Linked DNA regions of Homo sapiens. The protein of the gene in region 2 purifies or fractionates together with the protein of the main gene of each other region. This does not show direct contact. Each region holds a gene or a part of one and is shown on either strand. Other genes may lie near its edges.

What was found.
Region 1: the proteins of SPIN1 (region 2) and YRDC purify together in Homo sapiens (affinity purification with mass spectrometry; 3 studies listed by BioGRID and IntAct, with this or other methods). This does not show direct contact.
Region 3: the proteins of SPIN1 (region 2) and TOPORS purify together in Homo sapiens (affinity purification with mass spectrometry; 4 studies listed by BioGRID and IntAct, with this or other methods). This does not show direct contact.
Region 4: the proteins of SPIN1 (region 2) and PAX3 purify together in Homo sapiens (affinity purification with mass spectrometry; 3 studies listed by BioGRID and IntAct, with this or other methods). This does not show direct contact.

What each region holds. Positions count from the first base shown.
Region 1 is NC_000001.11:37,805,194-37,812,115, reverse strand, and holds the start of YRDC (threonylcarbamoyl-AMP synthase precursor), read left to right. Parts: upstream 1-3,907; 5' UTR 3,908-3,935; coding exon 3,936-4,324; exon of another isoform or gene 4,325-4,326; intron 4,327-4,900; coding exon 4,901-5,015; intron 5,016-5,139; coding exon 5,140-5,259; intron 5,260-6,922. Other genes in the region: uncharacterized protein C1orf122, read right to left, coding at 3,043-3,138, 3,384-3,585, 3,677-3,711. UniProt on the Homo sapiens protein: Cytoplasmic and mitochondrial threonylcarbamoyl-AMP synthase required for the formation of a threonylcarbamoyl group on adenosine at position 37 (t(6)A37) in tRNAs that read codons beginning with adenine.
Region 2 is NC_000009.12:88,475,411-88,479,195, forward strand, and holds the end of SPIN1 (spindlin-1), read left to right. Parts: 3' UTR 1-3,284; downstream 3,285-3,785. UniProt on the Homo sapiens protein: Chromatin reader that specifically recognizes and binds histone H3 both trimethylated at 'Lys-4' and 'Lys-9' (H3K4me3K9me3) and is involved in piRNA-mediated retrotransposon silencing during spermatogenesis.
Region 3 is NC_000009.12:32,549,569-32,557,151, reverse strand, and holds the start of TOPORS (E3 ubiquitin-protein ligase Topors), read left to right. Parts: upstream 1-4,565; 5' UTR 4,566-4,672; coding exon of another isoform or gene 4,673-4,715; coding exon 4,716-4,718; exon of another isoform or gene 4,719-4,918; intron 4,919-5,344; exon of another isoform or gene 5,345-6,008; intron 6,009-6,183; coding exon 6,184-6,378; intron 6,379-7,583. Other genes in the region: NDUFB6 (NADH dehydrogenase [ubiquinone] 1 beta subcomplex subunit 6), read left to right, coding at 3,208-3,276; SMIM27 (small integral membrane protein 27), read right to left, coding at 4,229-4,351, 4,673-4,717. UniProt on the Homo sapiens protein: Functions as an E3 ubiquitin-protein ligase and as an E3 SUMO1-protein ligase. Probable tumor suppressor involved in cell growth, cell proliferation and apoptosis that regulates p53/TP53 stability through ubiquitin-dependent degradation.
Region 4 is NC_000002.12:222,218,978-222,226,011, reverse strand, and holds part of PAX3 (paired box protein Pax-3), read left to right. Parts: intron 1-591; exon of another isoform or gene 592-4,624; coding exon 4,625-4,790; exon of another isoform or gene 4,791-4,926; intron 4,927-5,459; exon of another isoform or gene 5,460-5,616; intron 5,617-5,657; coding exon 5,658-5,872; intron 5,873-7,034. UniProt on the Homo sapiens protein: Transcription factor that may regulate cell proliferation, migration and apoptosis. Involved in neural development and myogenesis. Transcriptional activator of MITF, acting synergistically with SOX10.

The DNA.
Region 1 (6,922 bases), on a different chromosome or scaffold from region 2:
CTTAACCATTTTCACCCTGTACGTTATCTTCTAGCTCCTACTAACATCTCCAATTAGACAACCGCTTCAAAGGGTGCTTAGCACCAGGGATTGGGGTTCATGGACTTAGGAGGTGGTAAGGAAACTGGCTGGCACCACCAAACTGCCTTAGTGAACTTGGCCCTTCCCAGGCAGGTAGGTTGGGCATTGAGGGAAGGTGGCCCAGTCTTTGCTGGCAGGGTCTGGCCAGTCTCATGGGGGCACCACCAGTTTGGTGACAGAAGTGGTGTCATTTATTGAATTCCACCTCCGTTTAGAAGGAGATCATGGTACAAAGCCCAGGAGGGGCCTTAAGATGTGAAGATCTCTCTGAGTAAAAGGCAAGGGGCTTCTCTTCTTCACCTCTGGGATAGTTGGTAGATCGGAGAGTTTTATTTTCAGGGTCAAGGCTGTGGACTGATGGGGATATTGGAGGGTGGGTGGGTTTTCCTGAGAGACTTTGTATAATGCTGAATGTGTCCAGAGGGACAAGTTTGCAGAACCTCATATTGGTATATTAAAGAAATAATAAAATAAAAAAGCACTTTAGGTTATTTTATCTTTAACCCGATTGCTGCAATTTCTTTTGTGTGTATATATACATATATATACTTTCCACAAAGTTTTATTTTTTGCTCAGAATAAAAAGTTAAATTGAGGTGTGAAAAGAAAAGCACTTACCTTGGTGCAATATGTGTAGCTTGATGGTCGTTGTCCCATGTGGCCCTGGCCTGGCAGCGTTTTTCCGCTCAATCAGCCCTGTGCTGTGAGACTGTCCATAGGGAAACACTATTATGCATTCTCAGCAACCGCTCAATCTATGCAAGCCTTCCCTGTGTGCCCCAGGGCGCCCCCTCAGGCTCTCTGAAGAACTGCTGTGGGTCCTGTTTTCTGCTGACTGTTGAGGCCCTTTTTCATCACTTCTTGGTCTCTCGCCATCTTTTCCCTCTTCACCATTACAAAATGATGCCTGAAAGGAAGGAACAGATTGTTCCTAGGTAGAAACCTGGCACCTTCTAGACTTTTATATTTGTAATCACATCCATTGTCCTTAAAGACTTTTCCAGAGTGATTGAAACCATTGATTTGTGGAACTGCAACAATATTTCTCAAGAGTTTACAATTGTCTTACACCACCAATCAGAAATATGTTTGGGGAGGCATGGGTGGCAGGGGGCAACATGAGCCATTTCCATACTGCTCCCCATACTACCTGTGTTGGTTCCTTAAGCAAAAAGGCCTCCAGCCTTCATTAAATCCTATAAACAAACATTACATCCCATGAATCATTATCAACTTTCTTCCTTTACTCCACCTCCCCCATTTTATCTTCAATTCTCAGGCTATAGAATAGACAAGTTTTAGAATATACTTCAGCCAAAGCAGAAGGATTTTCATAGATCCAATATGCAAATAGTTCTGCTGTGACATAGATCAGAAATTGTCTGTTCCTTAATATTTGGGGGTGGAGGCAACAAAACTGAAGCATATTTCTGATTGGTTAGCCATTTTGGCCTGTTTCCTCTTGCATGTTTTTTAGGGAGAGAGGGAAACAGTCCTGTATTTCTTCTGATGCCCTTTGGGGAAGCCGACGACCACTGGGCATTTCTCACTGTTACTCCTGTTCAAGAGAGGGCTTCTCAGTCTGCACTGAAAAATGCAAATTAAACTGGATCTTTATGTCAATGTGTACATAGTACAAGCTTTTTTACTGGAATTGAGGTTTAAAACCACACACTGCCCTTTTGGTGGTGTGCCTGTTGGGCCAAAAATTGGGTGATAATGTAGTGTCACTTTCTCAGCTCAATGCAGTTTCTACTTTTTCTTATGGGAAAATTTTTCATAAAACCTTTTTGCACCAAAACCCAGGGGTGTTTTTTGCAATATCCTTGTTATCCTCGTAGTGTGCCAAGTCAGAGGCTTTCTCTTGCCCTTTTCCTGCTGTGTTCTCAGGCCTCCCAAGGGCTATTTGACTCAACAGTCTACATCCTTCGTTGTGTTTTGGAGAATGTGGGGGTGGGGGTCAGAGTTCAAGGTGTCTGTTCCCTTTTCCTGTGAACTCTTTCTAGTCCCTATTTGGGGAGGGTGGCTGGAAACAGATTTTTGCTGAATTTCTGGCTCAGATCTTCTAGCCAGGAAAGGCAAGAGCCCCCAAGAGCCCTTTTTTTTGACATACACTAATCATTGGCCGGGGTCTTGGTGACAACTTTTAAAATCCCAAATAGTTTTATTTGGATTATGTAAAAGTAAGTGTGAAACATGGGAACAACGGACTTCCACTGAGCGATGTGAAAACGTTACAGGTTCAGTACTTCCAAAGGAAGAAACCTCCAAACCCAAAAAAGAATAAATATGAATTTGTATTTTTGAAGAATGTGAAATAATGGTGTTTGCTTAATTGCTCATTTTGTATAAACTTAATATTGTACTTTAAAATATCTGCTAAAAAGTGAAAATTTAACTTTTTGGAATTGAAAAAGCAATATTAAATACTAATGAAATCCTAATTAAATGCTTATTTAAATCTGGTAGTATCTGTGGCATTTCTTACCAACCCTGCCCATAGTTGACATTTTTCCACCACTCCCCCCTTCCCAGCCATCAGTCTTGGAGAGGGGACAGAAAGGAAACGTCGGTCACCAGGAGAGTCTGCAGGTTTCCTTTTAATCAAGGCTCTACTGAAGGTGTTTTGTGGGGCTAAAAGCCCCCAAAACATGAAATGGACATGTAACACCACCTGGATCCCCCATAGCAGGCCAGACCACTCTGGCGAGCACTGCTGGTCTGCCCAAATCTGGGTAATCAGACTGGGTATTCATTGGCTGCATTTCAAAGCACAGCACTGCTTTCAGCCAGGATGAAGTGGGAGTGAACCCAGCTGCTAGCAGAGCTGCCACTCCAGGCTGAGAGCCAAGTACCAGCCACTGCCAGTGAAGACTGGCCCCTTTACTGAAGGGAGTTGTTCAGAGTCCAGCCACCGGCCCTGGGGAGGGAGAGAAGTCAGGGTATTCTGCTCGGGGATGGTCAGGGCTCCGCAGCTCCATCGCCAGCATCCTTTGGAAAGCCGCCTCTGGCGGAGACAGCCGGCTGGGGGGGCGCTCCAGGTTTGGCTGAGACGTTCTAGTTGGAACAGAAAGGAAAAAAGTGAGGCTGGGAGGCAAGGCCTTGGATTAGGCCCCACAAGGATGTGGCCATTTGGCATTTGGATAGTATTAACTTTTTCGAAACCTCTCACCAGATCAAAGGAGGTTAGGGATAAAGCGGCGGAGACATACTTCCCCCCTCCAGGGTAAGCTAGGGCTTGGCCAGCCTAGCCAGTGGGCAGACCCCACCCCACCCCAGCCCAGCCCAGGGTGGGCACTAACCCCGCCACCAGCCGGCTCCGGGCGCCGGCGGCCCAGCTGCCGTAACATCTCCTCGCAGGCTGCGATGGTGTCCAGGAGCTGCCGCTGCCGCTGCTCCACCGCGTCCAGCAGCTGCTGGGCGCGCTCCTCCCGGGGCGGCTGTGGGGGTGGCCTCCCGCCGAGCCCCAGCCCCGCCTTCCCGCGGTCCACGCCGGCAGCCTCCCTGCCCGGGAGAGAGCGAGAGACAGACGGTCAGGGCCGGCGCTTGCGCGGGGCCAAGCCCCTTCCTCCCGCCCCGACGGGCCCCCTCTCACCCCCGTGACCAGTCTGAGCCCGGGCCCCATTCCATCTCCGCTTGCGCGGCCCGACCACCGCCCCCCTTTCGGCCGCCCCCCTCCCCAGCGCTGCGTTAGGGCTTCGCAAGGCTGCGCCCCGCCCCGTCCCCACCGGTCTCCTTCAATCCTCCTGGGGGTCGTGGTCCCTTTAAGCTGCCCGGCGCAGAGGCGGGGCCGAGTCTCCTGGACCGGAAGCTGGCTGGGAGCGTCACTTCCTCCCGGAAGCGGGCCTGGGCGGATGTCTCCGGCGCGTCGGTGCAGGGGGATGAGGGCCGCGGTGGCTGCCAGCGTGGGGTTGAGCGAGGGGCCTGCTGGCTCCCGGAGCGGTCGCCTCTTCCGCCCGCCGAGTCCCGCTCCGGCGGCCCCCGGCGCCCGGCTGTTGCGGCTCCCGGGGAGCGGGGCCGTGCAGGCCGCGAGCCCGGAGCGCGCCGGCTGGACCGAGGCGCTGCGGGCCGCCGTGGCCGAGCTGCGCGCCGGCGCCGTGGTGGCCGTCCCCACCGATACGCTGTACGGCCTGGCCTGCGCGGCGAGCTGCTCGGCGGCTCTGCGCGCTGTGTACCGCCTCAAGGGTCGCAGCGAGGCCAAGCCTCTGGCCGTATGCCTCGGCCGCGTGGCCGACGTCTACAGGTAAGGCCGCCCCGACCCGGCCCCGCTAGGGGCGGCACCGCGGGAGGGGTTTCCGGTGACAGGCTTGGGAGACTGAGGCGCAGAGAGCGGGAGGGGCTTGTCCAGGCTCACCAAGGAATCCGGAACTGGAAATATGTACCGAGGACTTAACGTGCCCCGGGCCCTGAACTACATGCTGCTGGGAAGCAGCAACACACGAGAAAGGCAGGGACCCTGTTCCCTTGGCGTATTTGTGCTAATTGGGGAGGCCCCCGGGAAAAAAGCAAACAAACACAGTAGCTTAATTTAATAGCGAATGCCTTGAAGAAAATAAAACGTGGAGCTTGATCCCACTATCATGATATCACAGCGGTGCAGCTGTTGTAGTCCCTGAGACCAGAGGCACATGGGCGTCAAGCCAGGGGTGCGCCTCTGGAGCCCTGCTTTCTGCTCAAGCTCTTAGGGAGGTGAAGCAGGGAGACAGGCGGCTCCCATTGTAAACTCGAAGGATTCCTTTTCTACGTCTGCCTAGAGTCTAGGAAAGGACCACCAGTGGCCCTTCAATTTTGAATGGATTTATTCTTCTGTGTTTCCCAGATACTGCCGTGTGAGAGTACCTGAGGGGCTCCTGAAAGACCTACTGCCAGGACCAGTGACCCTGGTGATGGAACGCTCGGAGGAGCTCAACAAGGACCTAAACCCTTTTACGCCTGTGAGTCAAGTTTTCTCTTGTGTCCCCAGACTCCAGGCCACTTGGCTTTCACTAGGATCCAGATAAGACTTACCCTCTTATCCCTTCCAACCTTTCTCATGATCCCTTTCCCCTTGCCTTACAGCTTGTAGGCATTCGGATTCCTGATCATGCTTTTATGCAAGACTTGGCTCAGATGTTTGAGGGTCCGCTTGCTCTCACTAGTGCCAACCTCAGCTCCCAGGCCAGTTCTCTGAATGTCGAGGTGAGTTTACCCAGTCCTTCCCCTGGAAATGTCACCAGCGCACATACTGTTTTCTGTGAATCAGTGGCATTGATAGTACACTGGGATGGCCAGGCATGAGAGTTCTTGGGCCAACAGTGGGAAGGTTGCCCAGCTGGCAGGGAGGTGGTGGGGGGCAATATAAATTAAAAAAATTTGAAAGATTTTATCTCAAAGTCTGAAAAGCCAGGGGGAGAATTGGTCTTTTCTTCAGTCTTTATAATAATAGGAAAGATTATAAGAACAATGTCTTCCTGTTTTTCTGGAGATAACAGTTTCTGGAGAACACAGTTAGGCTATAAATCTTCACGACAGTGCTGTAAAGAAAGATGAAGAAGGCCAAGGGCAGTGGCTCATGCCTGTGACCCCAGCACTTTGGGAGGCCCAAGCAGGTGGATCATGTGAGGTCAGGAGTTTGAGACCAGCCTGGCTAACATGGCAAAACTCCATCTCTAATAAAAAATACAAAGATTAGCCAGACATGGTGGCGCATGCCTGTAATCCCAGCTACTTGGGAGGCTGAGGCAGGAGAATCACTTGAACCTGGGAGGCAGAGGTTACAGTGAGCTCAGATTGTGCCACTGTACTCCAGGCAGGGCTCTAGAGCGAGACTCTGTCTCTTAAAAAAAAAAAAAAAGATGAAGTTTAGCCTCCAGAAAGTTAAATCACTTGTTCCAGGTCACACAGCCATTAAGTGACTGACTCAGATTTTTAACCAGTTTTTGATTCTCGCCCCTGTTCTCTTATCTCTGCCACAAGCCAGATCAAAGAAAGGATCATCCTAATCCTTTCTTGGCTACATAGATTAGAACAAAGGAGGACACATAGAAATTTCGTTTTTTTTCTTATTACTAAGATGTAAAACGTAGTAATAAGCTACATTGTGTCCCCAGACTCGGCCAGACACATAGTATCACACATAGTATCCAGCATCAGGCCTTGGGCCTTCCTTGGGCTTATTACATCCAGCTAATAAGCCTGGATAGAGTAACTTGCGTGCAGTCACATAGAGATACGATGGAAAGTCCAGAGTTAGAGCCCGTATCCCTGCTCAGAACTCCATTCGATGGGTTTTCCATTCCCAGACCTAGAGTGGGGCTCAGGGTTCTTAGAAAGTGAGAGTTCAGCATCCCTTCCCATTCTCAGAGTGCAGGTTTGACTTGGTCCTGGTGGCTGTACCCCAGGAGCAAGAATCGGGATGTGGCACAGGGAGGGGAGGTTTTTACCTTGTCAGCAATCATTTGACCTGTCCAACACAGTAACTGGTATTTATGATTTCCTGTCCCAGATTTCCAGGCCTAACTGCCACTGCAGTGTCTTCCTTGGGGGGTTGGGGAAGCTCTAGCTCAGTTAACAATTCAGTCCACTGCTCTAGGGGGAGTATCCTTCTCATAGCCCAAAGACTGAGTGCTGGTGGCATGCAGAATCTACCATGTTCTACTCTTCCTACCCTGATCAGAGTCGCAGTGAGATCCAGGAGCATAGTTCTAGAGCTAGAAGGAGCTGGAATCACTTGTTCCAGGTTACGCAGCCATTAAGTGACCAGATTTTTACCTAGTTTTTTTTTGTTTTGTTTTGTTTGAGACAGTCTCACTCTCTTGCCCAGGCTGGAGTGCAGTGGCACCATCTCAGCTCACTGCAACCT
Region 2 (3,785 bases):
GTTTTGTTCTGAATAGTACAGATTGATGTGAACACAAAGCATTTTGTGTAAGGAGAACCCCTTTCTTTTAAAAGAAGTCTGTCTATTTCGAGGGGAGTTACAGGCAAGTTTGGTAAAAGTTAAGCTAGTATCATAGTCATTTAAAATTGTAATAGATCTTAACCATTTTCCCCCTCACCCTAACTCTCTTATTCTGCCGCCACAATGCAAGCATAGTTTGATGTTTTCGTTATTGCCTTTTTTGAGATGTATGTATCTGTATCTACCTATATCTATATGTGTGTATACATATATAATATATACACACAGATACAAGTGTACACACACACACCACACACCACACACACCCCACTGGCAGTCTTTGTGGATTAGGATGGGGGTGACATAATTTTCTTGAGTTTAACAGGAGTGCTTTACCCAAGTCAGTCATGGATATGATATCACTGCTCTTTATTTAAAAGTAAACTTTGGGCACAGGAACCATATGGGAACATTCAGCTTGTTTAAAAAAAAAAAATCAGAAGTTCAGAGCACCTTTTCAATCTGGAGCCCTTAAACCATAAGTCCAAATATGAATTATTTGTGAACAGTTAATGACCCATATTAGAATTTTACAATCTGGTGAACAATCTGGGTAAAAGGCTACCTTTAATTCTAAGCTTCATTTTTTTTTGGGGGGGGGTTACATTTTAATCATAAATTCTTTTTTGCAAAGCCCAGGTTCTTGTTCCACACAGTGTAATGTAGGTGTATTTTGGACAGCACATATGGTCCATTGTGTACAAGTCAGTAATCTGGATTTCAGTACATGGATTTAAAAGGCAACAATCCATCACTGGTTTGTGTGTTTTTGGTTAAGTTTCTGGAAGAATACAATGCTTTTATATTGGAAGTATAAGTTTTGAGTGGCATTGTTGCCTTCTAACAAGCTCTCTGGGACTTTTAAAGTTTTATTACTATTATTGCTAATGTATGATTATGGTCAGAGACTTTCAACCCACCCCTTCCTGCCTACCCCTGGCTTTTCCTCACAAAGAATGTCTAGACAAACAGCAGCTTAGTCTCCTGACACCTCTTGTGGGGTGCATGTTCCTGCTCCAGGTATGCTGTTCATGTGGATTCATTCCATTCAGTGGCCCCTTGGGGTTTGCATGCCAGTGAAGCGTTACCATAGAAGAGCCAGCCGTTTGTGTTCGCTTGGTAGGTGTAAGTAATAGCAGCCCTTAGCCACGGAGTCTTTATGTGGTTTATTCCTGCAAGGTTGTTTTAAACTGAAATAGAACTGCTAGTGTGATTGGTTGATCAGCAAAACAGCTGCTCTCATTTTGTTTTGGAGGAACCCTGGTGGTTTGACAGCCAGGAGAAAGGCCATATGTGAAACCAGTCTCTTGTGGAGATTGGAAATCCTCCCTGATATTTGGGCAGAGCCTAAACGTGCATGCTTGTCACTCAAACACCAGAAGTTTGAATCAGAGGTCTGAGTGACCTCTTTTGTGGCTGTTCTTGATGGTTTCCAGGCCTCGTTATGCATGGTTTGCTTGATGCCCATTTTTTGTGCCTTGTGCTGTTGGATGGTAACGACCACTCACCATGTAAACACAGTACCTCAGTTTTCTGTCCACAGCTGCAGTCGCTCTGTCCCTCGTGCTTCACTGTGGGCAGCCAGGGACAAGCTTCTGAAAGCAGTGTGATACCCAAGTCATAGGTGCTTCTCGTATGTGAACAGGTGTCATTCTACAGATCTGTTATGTGTTTTCCTGTTGACTCTTAAGAGTCCCTGCATGTAAATCTCAAAGCTGAGCCTGGCTCCCAGAGTCCAGACTGACATTACAGCGCAAGAGTTTGCAAGTGTGTCCAGCATGCACCAACTGTGCAGAACTTGGCTCGGTAACTTTGCGTGGAAAAATAAAGTACATTTTGAAGTATCTTGAGGGTTGGGTCAATTGAGACATTTCTAGCATTACTTAATGACTTGCATTGTGGTTTTTCTGCAAGCAACTTTAATGACTTTTTTTATACCACATGGTCTCCCAGTTTCTAGATGAATGCAACATGATGATGGTGATGATGACGATGAGTTTAATCATTGTTCATTTATTGCCTTTAGGGCTGAGGGAAAGGGAAGGTTTGTTTTTTTTTCTCCCCATTTTCCCCCATTCTGTCTTTCTTTTGGTGACTTACACCACATGTAATGACGCTATGACTAATTCTGCTCCCAAGCCCTTGTATCTTGGGCTTCATTTTAGGCTCATGTGTCAGATCTGCATGCATTGCTTGCATTTTTCTGGTATCTGAATGTTGGTTCCTTGTTCCAGGAATTCAACATTAATTTCCAAAAGTATCATGGGACTTGTGACAATACAAGACATGAATCTATGTATAAAATTTATCGGCCTTTCTCATTTACCTGCTCTAGTATTATTGTATTGTGTGTGCGTGCGTGTGTGATGTCAGGCTGCCACGTAAAACTTCAGAGAAAAATCTTAAAAGCAGACCATCCTTTTTTGCATGCTCTATTCTAAGTAGAATGTTCAATGTAACTGACTAAAATTGCATGTTAAAGATATTTAGGTTTTTTTGTTTTCTTTATTTTTATTTGTTTTCAGTTTCCTGTATATTTGCTTACTGTGCCGTTTTAGTGGTTTTAGGATAAAAATGCACTGGTGAAGCAAATGTAGTGCCAACAGAAGGTGATTTTCCAGTTGTAAATGTCATGCAGCATTTGAAGGGACTGTGTTTTCTTAAAAAAAAATCACAGTTACTTCTAAACCAGATTTCATTTCTTTTATTGTTTTATGTGCCAAACCACGAAGTGCATTGGGCTTCAATCTCTGAACACTGTAGACCCATTAGAAGACTGTTCCGATTGTTACAAATTGTAGTGCCTGAAAACACTCTTAAGCTGATTGTCTTAACAAAATGAAAGTTCTCCAAAGACAAAACAGAACAATTATTATAACAAAATAATTATGGTTGAAATGTCTGTGGTTCCTTGGAAATGCTGCGCTCTTTGTGTTTTTCCATCATTAGTGCAGTTGGAATGAATGTGTATAGGTCAGAGGTCTTCGTGTTCACATTTTAAAATTAGGTAAATGACCTCATCTTTCAAGCTTGAATTCATTTTTAATTTTAATTTTATTTTATACAATGTGTAGACAGTTCCCTGTTCTCTGCATTTAGAAGTATACACAATATAAATCTGTTAATTCTGTAAGTAATTTTTATAATTATGATGTAACTCTATCTTATCCTTAAAACATTTAAAATAAACCCTTTATGTGCAACTCCTGACTGTAAAGTTTGTGCTGATGAGCAACATGTGATGTGTTAAACTTGATTCTGAAAAGTTTTTTGGGCCAAGTAACCTTTTCACCACATGTAAATGTCAGATATGCATAGAAAGAAATAGAATTTTTATTTGATAACATTCAATAATACCTGAAAGAAGAGGAGGCAGTCATCAATATCACACATATATTAAATATTGAAGTTTGCAATTTGACATTGAGAAAGTTTAACTTACAAGATCTTAAACTTAAAAAAATTCTTTTAAATATAATTAAATAATGGGTATTTTATACTTTTCACAAGTATTCTTGCTTTGAATATTTCTTATAATGCTTTTACTCATAAATAATAAACAATGGGATTCTATAGTGAAAAATCACTATTTCTCAATGCTAGGATACAAAAAAATGAAAGTAATATAGGCTGGTGCAAAGTAATAGCAGTTTTGCCACTGCTTTTATGGCAAAAAATGCAATTACTTTTTCACCAACCTAATA
Region 3 (7,583 bases), about 56 Mb from region 2:
GCGCGGTGGCTAACACCTGTAATGCCAGCACTTTGGGAGGCAGAGGCAGGTGGATCACCTGAGGTCAGGATTTTGAGACCAGCCTGGCCAACATGGTGAAACTCCATCTCTACTATTAATAAAAATACAAAAATTAGCTGGGCATGGTGGTGCACGCCTGTAATCCTAGCTACCGGGGAGGCTGAGGCACAAGAATTGCCTGAACCTGGGAGGCAGAGGTTGCAGTGAGCCAAGATTGCGCCACTGCACTCCAGCCTTAGCGACAGAGCACCCTGCCTCAAAAAAAAAAAAAAAAAAAAAAAAAAGTAGGGGATTTCTCCTTTTGTTTTATTGTGTAACATTGATGTGTGTTACAGCCTAGGTAGTCTCAAAATAGGAAATTATCTTGCTGGTTTTTCCAGCTGGGCAATTTATATTTATTTAGTCTTCCATTTATTCCATTTAAATGTTAATTTATTTTGCCATTTACTGTTCAAAGGAAAAGGAGAGCTCTATTCAGAAGACCATATCAGGGATCCTGTAGCATTTCTCATATTTCTGTATTTTTTGCCACTGTGGTTCTTTCTTGTTTCTGTGCCATGACCCCTTTGAGGAACTGAAGAATGCTCATTGTATATATGTTTAGAATAGGACAAGTAATAACAAACTTCCAAATCTCAATGGCTTAACAAAACAGAGGTTTATTTCTTGTTGACATCACAGACTACTGTGAATCAGGTGATCTTCCTCAATCTTACAGCCGTGCCTATCGAATATGAGGTTCCAAGATTGTGATACAAAGATACGGCAGGATGTCTCAGGGGATGATTTTTAGGATCTAAGCTTAGAAGTAGCTTACATCACTTCTGCTCAAATTCTGTTAGCTAAAACTCACTGTCATCTTCCCAAATATTATCTGTGTGCTCTTTGCTATTTCCCAGACCCCTGTTCATGGAGTTTCTGCTACATTCCATCTTTCTAGTCACCAAACAGCTCTTGGCTTCTTTCTTTACCCATGCATAACACACTTAGTCTCTCTCCTTAGGGAGAAATCCCAAAGTCCCATTCCATCATTGCACCCCGGCCCCAAATCCATGATCTCCAGATGATGTAAAATAGTATGTCAGGTTTATATATGACTTCTGTTGATCTGAGGATCAGTGAACTAAGAAGACAAGTTAACTGTATCCTTGTCCCCCAACCACACCCATTGTTCAGTGGTAGAATTTGGATAGCATAGTAGTCACTGGTTCTTGGCAATCCTGAAATCTCACTCCTAACCCGTGTGTGAGAAATTACTTGAATGGGCACTGATTTTGTTTTCTTGAAAGAACACCTTTATCCATCGTTCTTCCTGGTTCCTGGCTCTGTCCAGGGGGTTTGTTCTTTTCATTATCTACCTAGACCACATCTAAATGGTATTGGGAAGCATGCCCTCCTTAGGGGGCTGTATGGGCTTCAGAATCTGCCACCTGCTTGCAGGAGGTTGAATGCCAGAGGTTGTTTTAATTTCAAACATTCTGGCAGGATTCTGTAAACTATATGTTTGGTTTGTCCATCCATTTCCCTTAACATTTAGAAGCATGAAAAGAAAAATATTTGGTAGACATCTAATGTGTTTACTTCTAGTCAGTGTCTCATGCCAGTATCTGTTTTTCCTATACACAGTTACCAGCTTGTCTCATTTCTTTGTCCTTATGCATCTGCCTCTCTCACCTCTGTGGCAGCTATGTGGAGGCCATCTGAGGCAGACTGGTTCAAAGGCTACCTTCATTTTAAACTGATCTTTGCCATAGGGCTGTGTCCCTCTGTTTGAGTTTTATTGGGCTTCTGTTGCTCAGATTTCTTGTGTTAACTTATTGTTTAGGAATTCTGAAGTAGTGTGATTTTTCAATACCACAAGGTCCTGATTTTTTATTTATTTTTTAGATACAGGGTCCTACTCTTGCTCAGGCTGGTTTTGAACTCTGGGCCTCAAGCAATCCTCCTGCCTTGGACTCCCAAAGTGCTGGGATTACAGGCATGAGCCACCATGACTGGCCCAAATTTTTAGATTCTATTAACTTTTTTTTTTTTTGGTCAGGAACAGAAAGTCTCTAGCGTGCACCAAAGTGTTCTCTCGTCCTCTCCATTTTTATGTCGCCTCTCAAATCAGCCACTTTTTGCCTGAGCTCATGCTTCTTAAAGTACATTCCCAAGGCATCCAAGGATCCCAAGGATCCAAACACATACTATAACTTTTTTTCCCAGCTACTTCTTCTAGAACCTCAAGTTCATTAGGCAGTCAGCTTCCAAGTTATAGGAGATATTTTGCTAAATAGTTTGCCACTGCCTTTTGTTTCCATCTTTATCTTTGCTACCAGACTGCTAAGCCAGTGCCCTATAGCTTGATTTTTATTACAGCAGCATTAGTGCCACTTCAAGGCAATGATTTCTATTGGGATAATGCTAGCTGTACTAACAAATTGTTGCCCAAATGTATAATGGCATAAACATATTTATTTTTTCATTGGACTATAATCCTGAGCAGTACCAGGTCAGGGAATGGCAGGGATTGGGGTGGGTATGGGGACAATTCTACTCTTCCCAGTCATTCAGGGACTGGCAGGCTAACAGAATCTATCTTAAACACATGGCTGAAACTGAAATTGAATAATCTGTCTTAAAACTATACAGCTTGTCAGTGGAGGTTCCAAGATTCTTACCACTTGGTTCTGGCTTCAATGCCCATGCCTTTTTGCCCACATCTATATCAAGAATTGAAAAGACATCTGGACCAGCTGCCTAGCCAAAGTTTGTATTCTGTATTCAGTATGTAAGCCAATCAGAAAACTGGTGATTGCGTAACACATTCAGTTGCTGGGGGTACATTACCTCCTTATCTGGAACTGCAGATGTTTCCTTGCAACTTCTTTCTGGGGCCTCCATTTATTGGGGTCATACAAAATAAAAGATTATCCCTTTATCACTTAGAGAACACAATTTTCGTGCCCTTTTTGATTATTTTGTTTCTGAGTGAAAATTTCCCTATTATTTCACTATACCTTAAAATTTTGAATACTGATTGTTCAGATTTAGTCAGCTTCTACTTTGTCTAGGGTCCTTTTAAAGGGAATGCCAGAACTCAAGTACATTTTCCATGTGAGATCTGATGAACATAGAACAGAATAGAACTATCACCTCTGTAGACTTAAGATTTTTGTACTAACTGTATCTTTGTTTTCCTAGGGTGATACAATTCTGGAGACTGGAGAAGTAATTCCACCAATGAAAGAATTTCCTGATCAACATCATTAAAGATTATGTAAAAAGTTAAAAGGCTTATGAGCCTAAGTTTGTTCCTATATTACCATATTTACTGAATTTTCTGGAAAAGTAACTTTAATAAAGTTTAATCTCAGAAATTGTCATATCTGTTTTCAAGCATTGTACAATTTGAGACTGAGTAATTTAACAATAAGTAAAAAGTGGACATGCTAAACAAATATGAGAGACTACCTACTTTTTCTGGTCATTCTTGACTTGGAAAACGGTATGGAAAAGTATTTAGTTACATGTTTGTTTGTTTTTTTCTTACACAGTACTTACACTAATTTGGTATCAGGGTATGCAACAGTGAAATATCACAATAAACAAATGTAAGAACAGCAATTCCATGCACTTTTGTTTTAAGGAAATCTTTCCGGCCAGGCGCAGTGGCTCATGCCTGTAATCCCAGCACTTTGGGAGGCCGAGGCGGGCAGATCACGAAGTCAGGAGATCGAGACCATCATGGCTAACACAGTGAAACCCCGTCCCTACTAAAAATACAAAAAAATTAGCCGGGCGTGGTGGCGGGCTCCTGTAGTCCCAGCTACTGCGGAGGCTGAGGCACGAGATTGGTGTGAACCCAGAAGGCGGAGCTTGCAGTAAGCCGAGATAGTGCCACTGAGCCTGGGCGACAGAGCAAGACTCCGTCTCAAAAAAAAAAAAAGCTTTCCGAATCATTTTTGAAGAATTTAGAAACTTGATTGAAAAGCTTATTCCAACTATGATCTGACACTCAAGACTGTCAGATTTAGGTTGCTGTTAATTTTGTCATGAGAATGTAAAATACTAAAATCTCTAAGTGAAAAATTTGCATACTAGTGCTTGTTATAAAGGATAATGCAAAAATAAACTTGGGAACTTTGCATTATGAATTTTATTTTTATATCTACATAAGCATGAGGGAAAGAACTGTATTTTCAGATAATTAAATCCAGAAGAGTTACAAATTTTCATTCGTCCCAAAGATTTTGTCTGGGTATTTCTTCCTTAGCTGTCGTCTTGCAGACACCATCGAAGCATAGATGATGCAGCCCCAGGAGATTAAAACGATGGCAAGCAGCAACTAAACCAAAAATCGCAAAGGAGGTGTGAAATCTACCTGATATTTCCCCTCGCCCCCGTCAGGTTACCGTTGCCATTGCTAAGGTGGGAATTAAAGTAACAAAGTCGAATAAATGGGGTTCCAGTGGCGGGTACACCCAGCAGCCCTTACGTAAGAAGCGGAAGATCGTATCCTCCAGGAAGAGGCGGAGTCGAGGTGAGGGAGTGAAATGCTTAATTCAGGAATGGATTTTGGAGTTTCTGGGTGCTGAAGAAATAGGGCCTTTCCGCCTGCGGGCCCAGTGAGTCGACACGGTGGGGGCCCGCGATCCCCGGGACTTACCACTGAATAAATCCAGTCCAGCGTGCGACGACTTACTGGCTTCATGGTAAGGAGGCGGCAGCAGTCCGCGGGAGCTGGCGGGAGCTGCGGGCCTTACAGTAACCTCCCAGGCGGTGGCTGCCAGGCGCCAGCAGCCATCTTTTAGCCGGGCACGAGCGCCCGCCCACTCGCTTCGTGCAGCGCTGTCGCTGGCCTCTTCCGCCCGGAGTTGGGGGGCGGTATCACGTGATCGGGGGCCTTGCCCGCCTTTTAGAGAGGGGAATAAACGAGAAAATGTTAAAAATTGCTTTTTTTTTTTTTTTTTTGCCAACTAAGGAGATAGGCGTACCTCCACTGGTTTTCTTTCTAGTTGCAATGCAATATTAATGCAGGATAAGGTGCTGTCGTGTCCATTTAAAAGTTAATTTGAAAAACAATCCACGTTTTAAATATTACGTCTGGCTCTAAAGCTGGAAGAATTAACGCTTTCTCCCCCGCTCCCTCCCCCACGCCTCCCCGCATCTGATACCACACGATTTAGATGGACGTTCGCCTGTTCATCTTTGACGTAAAAATACCACCCACTCTTTTATATGTGACAAATCGTTGTGGGAACCCCTGTAAATCGAGCCATTCTTCAGAAACGTATAGCGTAATGTATATCTCTAAGAAGAAATACGTGGGACGCGTTACCCGCCATAATGTATCAGTCAAGCAACAAGTGTTTGTTGAGCGTGTCTGATGTTCTTGAACTGCCGCGCGTGAGATACTAAGCCCCGAGCACGGCAGTTTGGTGGGCGAGCGTACCAGGTTCAGCTCTAGAATGTTTGGGGCGCTCACATTTGAGGCCTGAGGAGTAGAATCTGGCAACGGGCCGCTTAGGCTCTAGACGTTCTTTATACCTCGCAGTTATCTTAAAAGAGTTTTAGTCTAGATTTCAGGGAGTGGGAAGGGGAAGAGCGGAGAAAAACGTGGTCTGTTTAGGGAGGAGTCCAGGCCCTGTTTTGTTAGGTTGTCCTGTTTCTCCCCAGCCTGGAGGGGATCCCTCTCTGAAGACTTTATAGGATACTGGTTGGGCTCTGGTTTGGGATCCCGTTGGACTCCTGGTGTTGCTTCCGGGAGGCGTACAACAGGAGGTGAGAGACTTCAAGTCCATCTAACAATTCCCCTATCTAGACACTAAAGATAATTTCCTAAGTTTCCGCAGAGTTTGGTAAGGTTGAAACGACATCGAACTAGTTCTCGTGTTTTCCGGGTAAGTTAGGGGCGAACATTCAGTCAGTGTCCCCAGTGGCTGAGTACCAGTAACAAGATGGGGAGGGTCGCGCTGCCCTCCTCCGGGGTCTGGAGCGGCGGGGGAGGGGCCGCATTTGGGCCGGTGCGCTGAGCCCCGCCCCCGAGGCCGGCGTCCATCTGCTGCGCATGCGTGAGGAAGGCGGGTGTTGTGTTTTGATGCGCGGGAGCTGGGGGGTGGGTCTCGCTCTCTGCCCTGCTTCCGAGCTGCCATTGGTGATGAGCCCTTTGCGTCACAGGGGTCGCAGCCGCCGCTGGGGTCTCCGCTGTCTCGCGAGGAGGGTGAAGCGCCCCCGCCTGCTCCCGCTTCGGAGGGTAGGCGGAGAAGTCGCCGGGTACGCCTTCGCGGATCCTGCCGACACCGACCTAGCTTTCTGGGCTGCCGGGAGCTCGCGGCGAGCGCCCCAGCCAGGCCTGCGCCGGCATCCTCCGAGGTGAGTGAGATTCGGAACAATGGGACGCGGGGGTCGGAAGGGCCGTGGGAGTTGGCGCTCCCGCCTGGAGCGGCGCCTCGGGACCCGAGGGTTGCGGTCATGGCCTGCGGGGCTGTCCGGGCCTCGGCGGGCCAGGGCCAGGGCCCCCGAGCGGCTCCTGCGCGCACCTGTGGATTGGTGCGGGCAGGCGAGGGTTGCGCTTCCCACAAGCGCTCCCGAGGGGCGCGAGCCTGGCCGTGTACTGGAAAGAGCTTGGTCTCAGGGAAAAGCAAAAAAGCAATGAGACTGAATCGTGGCGTCACCACTTACAGGATATGTGACCTTGCCTAGGTCCCTTAAATCCCTGAGCCTGTCTGTAAAATGGGAATAACAATATTTAAGTTCGTTGTGGTTATGTAATGCTCATGGTGCTTATCTTAGTCTAGTGGCAGTTCTGAACCAAAGTAAACGACTATCACCGTGGCTTTGGGAGTTGGGACTTGTCTGTGTTGTGTTAAACATTCTGAGCAGAAATTGCCCGTGACTTGTTCATCCATCCATTTACTGCAGCTTTCCTCATGGGTTGCTGATTGTAGGCTGGAAGGGGGCAGTGCTGAGATGAGCCACATAGTGATTTAAGAGGAAAACGGAGTAGACCTTTTGATAGGTAATTTTCAAGATTATTTAAGATAAATTAAGAAACAGCTGCCCAAGATTTAAGTTAATAGTGGTGAGAGCTTTCTGGGTTTTGTCCATGAAATGCAAAGAAAGCTATACAATCAGCTAAAATCAATCATACTTGTCTGGAATGAGTGGTTTTAGAGGCGAACGGTTCCCAGCCAATTCTTTTTGCTGGAATTGGATTAAATTTGATAGGATCTGGATAAATTTGATAGGATCTACTGAGATCCTGTGACTTTTGTATCTTCTTTTGGAGTTGATTAAATGCAGTTCAGAGAGGTACAGTGATTTCTTTAAGGTGGCAAGAGGTAGGAACCAGTTTATTTTTAATACTTGGGTGATCTTTCTATTTCATCTATTCGTGAACCCTTTTTAGTCACTTTGCCTAGAAATATTAAGTATAATAATTATATTAAGTATGATGATTATTTTGTTGTTATAAACTATCCTCTGTCTGGACCCATATAATCAGTTATGGGTGATGAGCTACCGAAATTCACTTCGTGTTCACGTAACATAGAGAACATTGTTGAGTTCTTACTGTG
Region 4 (7,034 bases), on a different chromosome or scaffold from region 2:
ACAATTAGCACTAATCCATGAAACTTGGAAGCAAATTTGACCTAAGCCTCCATTCAAGTCAAACCGGCTTTCAATTATTTGAGGTGTTTTCTGGGCACTTTCCTGTTTACTCACAGACACAAAAGGCTTTGGCTGGACACCACAGAGTGAAGGAAGCAAAACAGAGCTTCAATTCTTGGTTTTCTCAGATAGAAGTGTCAGTGTGAGACTTTCTATTTAATAGCTAGCATTTACTGAACATTTAATATCTCCTTGGTATTCTTTTAGAAGCTTAGATTGCATTGCATTTTTAATAGTCACAACAATCTTGTGAAGTAGTTTTTATATTCCCCGTTTAGCACATGGGAAAACAGAGACCCCCAGATATTAAGCAAATTGTTCATGGTCACAGAAGTATTAATATAAATGAGGAGCTGAGATTCAACTTTTGCCTGGTCTGTATTGCACACATGTGAATAAGATGTATTGTTGTATCTTTACTGTAGAAAGTACTAGTTTCCCCGCCACCCGCCAACTTGTAATGTTGAGAGTCTGAACAAACTGGTTTGCTTACTCATAAAAAGTATGAAAATTTCTTTTCTAATTATTATCTTTTTTTCCTAGTTATCATGATGTTATGGGGCTCTTTCAACCAATTTAAATTTTGTTTCAAAAAATCATTGGACATTATACTACTAGAGAAATGCATGTAAAGATCATTTTTCAAAGACATGAAATATGGCTTTATGGAAGGACTCAGTAGAGAGACATACAAGTTGGGAAGTACAGGCGGCAGATAAAAATGAACCGGGCTGCAGTTTATCAAATGAAATAACAACTTGCTTTGAGGGAGACTTTTGATGTAATATTATACATGCAATGATAGACAATTAACTGTGTCTAATAGTATAGTAGGTTACTGACAAATTTGTGCCTCCTGCCCCCACTTCCTTAACATGCCAAGTGTGATGCGGAAGGCCAGGTAATCTTGTGTGGGGATAGTAAAATTACATTGAATTGTAGATCATATAATTTCATTTAAAGGTGTATAGCCAACTTTGTAAATCTTGTTCTTTCCACCCTACTGGCAAAGACATTGGGTGGTAAATTTCTGTTCTCTCCTAGAACATCAGTCATAGGCCAGTTTGCCTCTGTTGCTACTGCTATTCTTTTCAAAACAAGGGGAAATTTCTAGAAAGTGTAACTACTAAGTTATAAATATGTATATTTTAGATGAATTTATTCAGTGTTATACACTCACACATGCCATTCTGCAGATTATTCATTGATTGTATGTTAGGAATTAGTGATACAATATTGAAAGAGTTATCTAAGACTTAGGAGTATCAAGAAAATTTCAGTTAAATGTGGGCTGATAACAGCCTCCTAGGATCACTACGCTTGGTTCGTTCAGGTATTGAAAGTAAAGGTCATTTCTAGGGTACTCTTTTTAGTCTACTAAAAATAGAAAATTTGTCTGTTTTGAGTTTCAAAACATAAAGAAGGCAAAGACCAGTTCTTAATTTGCAAAGTTAGTGTGTTTTTCCTTTAATACTTCTTTTGGCAAATTCAGCTGGTTCTAGGAAATGCAGAAGGCTGGCAATGGTAAGATGATAAAAAATCAGGTTAAATGACCAGAGACAGGCAGGCCAGTCCTCACTAAGCCCTGGTTCTCTTAGGAATAGCCCTCTGGATTTATTTAGCCTAAATTTAAACAACATTTAAATTCCTTCCTTTGGGAATCTCTTGAACCTCTTGCTGAAGGTTTGTTTTTCAGTAAAGATTTGCTTCACAACAATTTCTCTTCATTTTTTATTGTGGATATAATAGATACTGTATAATAAATATAAGGACTTTTTAATCCAACTCCTGGTGAGTTTACTCAATGTCTTTGTTACCTATTTATATCATTTTAGAAAATATGAAAACAAACCCCCAAACCCTTATACTCTTACTCTGTTTGGATTCTGTCTTTTGAAGGTATTTGTAGAAACTCATGATGTTTCTTCTTTATTATCTCAGCAAAGACATTTTTGTTTTTAAAAATTGGGTTATGGTGGAGTTAGAATGAACCTTGAGTCAATAGTAACTTGAGATTGATGGAGAGATCAGGCTTCACCACTCCTGGGTTTACTTATCTAAAGGTTACAGAAGGCAGGTGGCACAGAGAGATTGCCAACAAATCTGACAAAAACCGAAGCGTACCTTTCTGAGTTCTTCATAAAGGGTTTCACCAGTGGAACTGAGCATAGTAAATCTTCATGAGTGAAGTTACATCAAAACTTTTGGAAGTCCAGTTCTCCTCCCAGCAATATAAAGCTGGAGATGCACTGTACATCGCTGGTCTAGATAGTTGCAGAGGACTACCTGATCTGAGCCGGGAGTACCTCCTTAGTCTTGACGTATTATAATATAAACTACAACCACAGTGTGTGTTATGGTACAGTGCACTCAGGCATGAACATGACCCTAATTTCCCACCTTCAGCCTCCCCAAGCTAACACAGTTTGTTCCCAGAACTTTCTTGAAAATGATTTTCTTACCCTGATGCCTTTGGGAGCCGTGGTAACAGGCACTCAGACCGGGGCAGTGAGAAAGCACAGTTAATGCAGACCTGAAATTAAGTGCTGTTCATGGTTCTATTACCCCAGGTGGCAATTTATTAAGTTAAGTAAAACTCTAATTCAATTATGTATCAACATGGGAAAATATTAACTTACCTCGTTTTCCTGTTGGAAACTTAAGGAGTATTAAATGTTGATGTTTTGAGGAAGTTCAAACAGCTTTCCTTACCAGTATCTTGCAACAATGGCGAGAGAAGACAAAACTCTTTTCAGACAAATGCTTGGGTGAGTACCAAAAGTTTGAGCAAATCCCTCGGCAAAGGATTTATTAAATTGAGCTTCTTCTCCAGAAAAATCTTTTCCTCCGCTCTTAAATGATCTGACTTTAAGAATTACAATTAAGTTGCAAAATTGTTAACATTGCTCTGTAAGGAAATCAATTCTCATCTTCTCTTAAGCTGGCCTCCTGTAACAAGCTGCATCTGCCTGCCCTGTAGGACAGGATGGATGTCACTTCCATCTCAAGCGATCGCTCGTCGAAATTAGAATCAAATTTTAAAATGAGCTGAAACTTTTTGCTTCCACTTTAGAGTTTTCCTGATTCTCTGTGCTTCCAAATGTGAAGTTTCTACCTCTAGCGAGCAATTATTTTGGTCTCCTTGACTGCTCTGTGAATCCCATGAGGACAAGGCATCAAACTACCAGAGTGCAGAGATCCTACTTGATTCCCTTTATATCCTTCCAACCCCAAACACAGTGCTTTCCTCCATATTAAGTTTCAATGGGTGGCTCACGCCTGTAATCCCAGCACTTTGGGAGGTCGAGGCGGGTGGATCACCTGAGCTTAGGAGTTCAAGACCCACATGGTGAAACCCCGTCTCTACTAAGAATACAAAAATTAGCTGGGCATGGTGGCGGGTGCCTGTAATCATAGCTACTGGGGAGGCTGAGGCAAGAGAATCCCTTGAACCTGGGAGGCGGAGGTTGGGTTGAACTGAGATCCCGCCATTGCACTCCAGACTGGGCGACAGAGCAAGACTGTCTCAAAAAAAAAAAAAAAAGTTTCAATGAACTTTTGATGTAGGAATTAGAATATCTTTAGTTGGTAGAAATCCTCTCTCATTTTAGGGGAAACATCATGTGTGCTCCGTGGAAAAATCACCCCAAGTTCTACATTTAAACTTTGCAGATGTAAGAGTTGGGCAGGAGCACAGGACCCATGAAAGGCCTTATATCACAATTTCTCAATAGTTTAGATATTCAGTTACATTTCTTGCTGCCATGACTGCCCTTTCTCTCCATTGACTCATACAAAATACTTGGGCTTTGAATTATTTGAGGGCATTTTATTATATTGTATCAGGCTTTTCTGAATGTACCTGGTTAGCATAGTGCTTGACACAGCGTGTTCTAGGAGCTTAAAGCTGTTGTTGAAATAAATAAGACACAAATGAATTATTTTAGATAAAAAAAGGCTTTCATTTCTTGAAACACTTACCTCTTTGGCATTTATTTCCACCGAGATCAGTGCAATGTTTCATATTTTGGAAGAGATGAAAAAAGGGCTCCACTTATCCTCTGTTCAATTTATATGACCATCCAGAAGCTATACCCCTAGTGACCACAGAAATACAGAGACAGACTAATAAGAATATAAAATACAAGGCTTGGAGTAAAAGGCAAGGCCACATTTAGGACATGCGTCATGCAGGGGTCACAGAGGCTCATGTATCCTCCCCAGAAGGCTGTCTACACGTAGGTGGGTGGATGTTGAGGGTAGGGAGGGGAGTTCCTGTTGTTCCTACTCCTGCTCAGTGATTCCTGCCCATGGTCCTCATAAGGTTCATGGGGGCTGTTGTTGCAAGATCATGGTGGGTCCCTGAAGCCCCTCTACTGACCTTTGACACTAAACTCTTCTTTTACTCCTGACAATTCGCCCAAACAACACAGAAGGCAGAGAACTCTTGCATCTATTTGCCCTTTCAGTAAGAAGCCTCTAATCTGTTTTAGCATAAAAAATTCATTAAGAATGTACTATTATTTCATCAGTGAAATCCTTAAATTTTAAATTAAATCCATAGGTCTGGTTTAGCAACCGCCGTGCAAGATGGAGGAAGCAAGCTGGGGCCAATCAACTGATGGCTTTCAACCATCTCATTCCCGGGGGGTTCCCTCCCACTGCCATGCCGACCTTGCCAACGTACCAGCTGTCGGAGACCTCTTACCAGCCCACATCTATTCCACAAGGTACCGAGGAAGAGTCAAGGAGATTAGAAAGTAACTTCCAGGCGATTTCTCTGGTGGATATTTTATACAAGTGAATCCTTCTGCAGTACTGACACCATGTTGTTAATTGTAATACATCAGGTTGTCCTGAACGTACCTATCACATTTCAGAAACATAGTTTGTTCTATGATGTATCAGAATATCTCTAGATAAACTGTGCTGTAATATAATTCAATTGCAGTATTTTAAAACAAATTAACCTTCCCAAATAACCATGGGATTTGCTTTTCTTTTGTTAAAATTTTACCTCTACGTTTTACTCCAGTTTGCAACTAACTGGAATTCAATGATGCTTACTAACTGTAGGAATAATAGAGGGAAGGTAAGCTTTGACAAAGTCATTATTTGTTAGCACACAGAGGTGAATGGGATAATGTTAAATTGTAAGATCCGATTATTTTGGATTATGAAAGAACATTCCAGGCATTTGAAACTATATTATTACACAAATATTTAGGTGCTTTAAAAGTATATTTGATAAGAAATTTGAGACTTGCAGTCCTTATATTGGTTAATTCTCATATTGATGAATAACATTCACTACCAAAATATGCTTGTTAGCATTGCTAATATGATTTCTGCATTAGTATTCTGGGTGAGCCTGCCGTGAGAGTATATATGTTACTTACAAGTATGTGCAGAGATAGGTGTGACTGTATCTGTTATGGGTGATTCTACACCTGCAGGTTAAGAAACGCAGTTTGAAGTGAACATTTGATTTGATCAATAGATGCTCCTGATGGCCTGGTGGCTGATGAACTTTTGCACTGAACTTTCTCTGCTGGCCTAAAAGAAAACATGATGGTTGACAATCTTTTTCATTTCAGCTGTGTCAGATCCCAGCAGCACCGTTCACAGACCTCAACCGCTTCCTCCAAGCACTGTACACCAAAGCACGATTCCTTCCAACCCAGACAGCAGCTCTGCCTACTGCCTCCCCAGCACCAGGCATGGATTTTCCAGCTATACAGACAGCTTTGTGCCTCCGTCGGGGCCCTCCAACCCCATGAACCCCACCATTGGCAATGGCCTCTCACCTCAGGTCAGTCCCGTGTTTCTAGACAGACGATTTGCTGTATACCAGAACCAAATATTCAATTCCCTGAGGCAGTAGTGTAATGAATTGCCAAATTTAAACCATAATGTATTCTTTATAGAAGCCACATGATTTCAGTTTTCTGGTTTCCTTTCTCTCCACCCTTCCTACTGGCTTCATCAAAAGTTGTAGCTTAGACTTAAAATTCAAGTGATTTTTGATATAATCTTGGAGACTTTGTGTTCATATTTAGCTGTGAAGGTGTTTGCCATGTTTTGTCTTCTCCATCCTAGTTCTGGGCTTTGGTTAAGAAGCTTGCAAACAGTGGCAGGTTTTTTGTTTTGTTTTTTTGTTTTAAATTGTATTTAAAATTGATAAGGTTTCAATCAATTGATAAGGTTTTAAATTGATGAGGTTTCAATCAAAAGCACCTCATAAGAAAACACTAAAGCTTTGACAAAACAATCAGAGAGGAAGCAAACAAGTCCTGTGGAGAGAGACCCAGCTGATGACTACGAACTCTGGAATAAACGAGTTATAAATGCACAAATTAGGGGAATTACTGCTCTTTGGGACTATATAAATATTTGAATGTTGTAATTGTTTTTCTAATTTGCATTGGACTATGAGCTTTTCTTAGGAGATCACATTAATAAATTGCCTTGATAATTGCATGTGAGAGGGTTGGTTAAATTTCCTACATGTGGCATCTGTCTGAGGTTGACATTATTAGCAGTTGTTTAAATACAGATCCCTTGATTTTATTAGAGAGTGCTTGGCCCAGGTGGCAAGGATAGCTGCCCACTAAATTTGGAGAAATGTCACAAGGGGTTGCAATCTATAATTGCAATCGAGAATCTCTTCAGAGAGTTTGAACAGCTTTATCTGTTCTCAACCCCCTTTTTCCTCTTGGTGGTTAGAAAAACAGAGAGAAGCTCAGAATGACACAAATGAAAAGTGAAAAGACAATTATACTCAATTACACACTAATCACTGACTATCACCGCTGCCTAAGCACCAAGAGGGCATTCTAATAGGCAGAAAATGAGATTTTAATGGCACAAAGGGTGGCCAAAATAACGACTCGTATATCTTTGCCTCTTCGTTTTCTTCAACTTGTGGTGTGTGTCTTGGGAGTGGAATTCCTGGGCTCTGCAAGACAGTGATA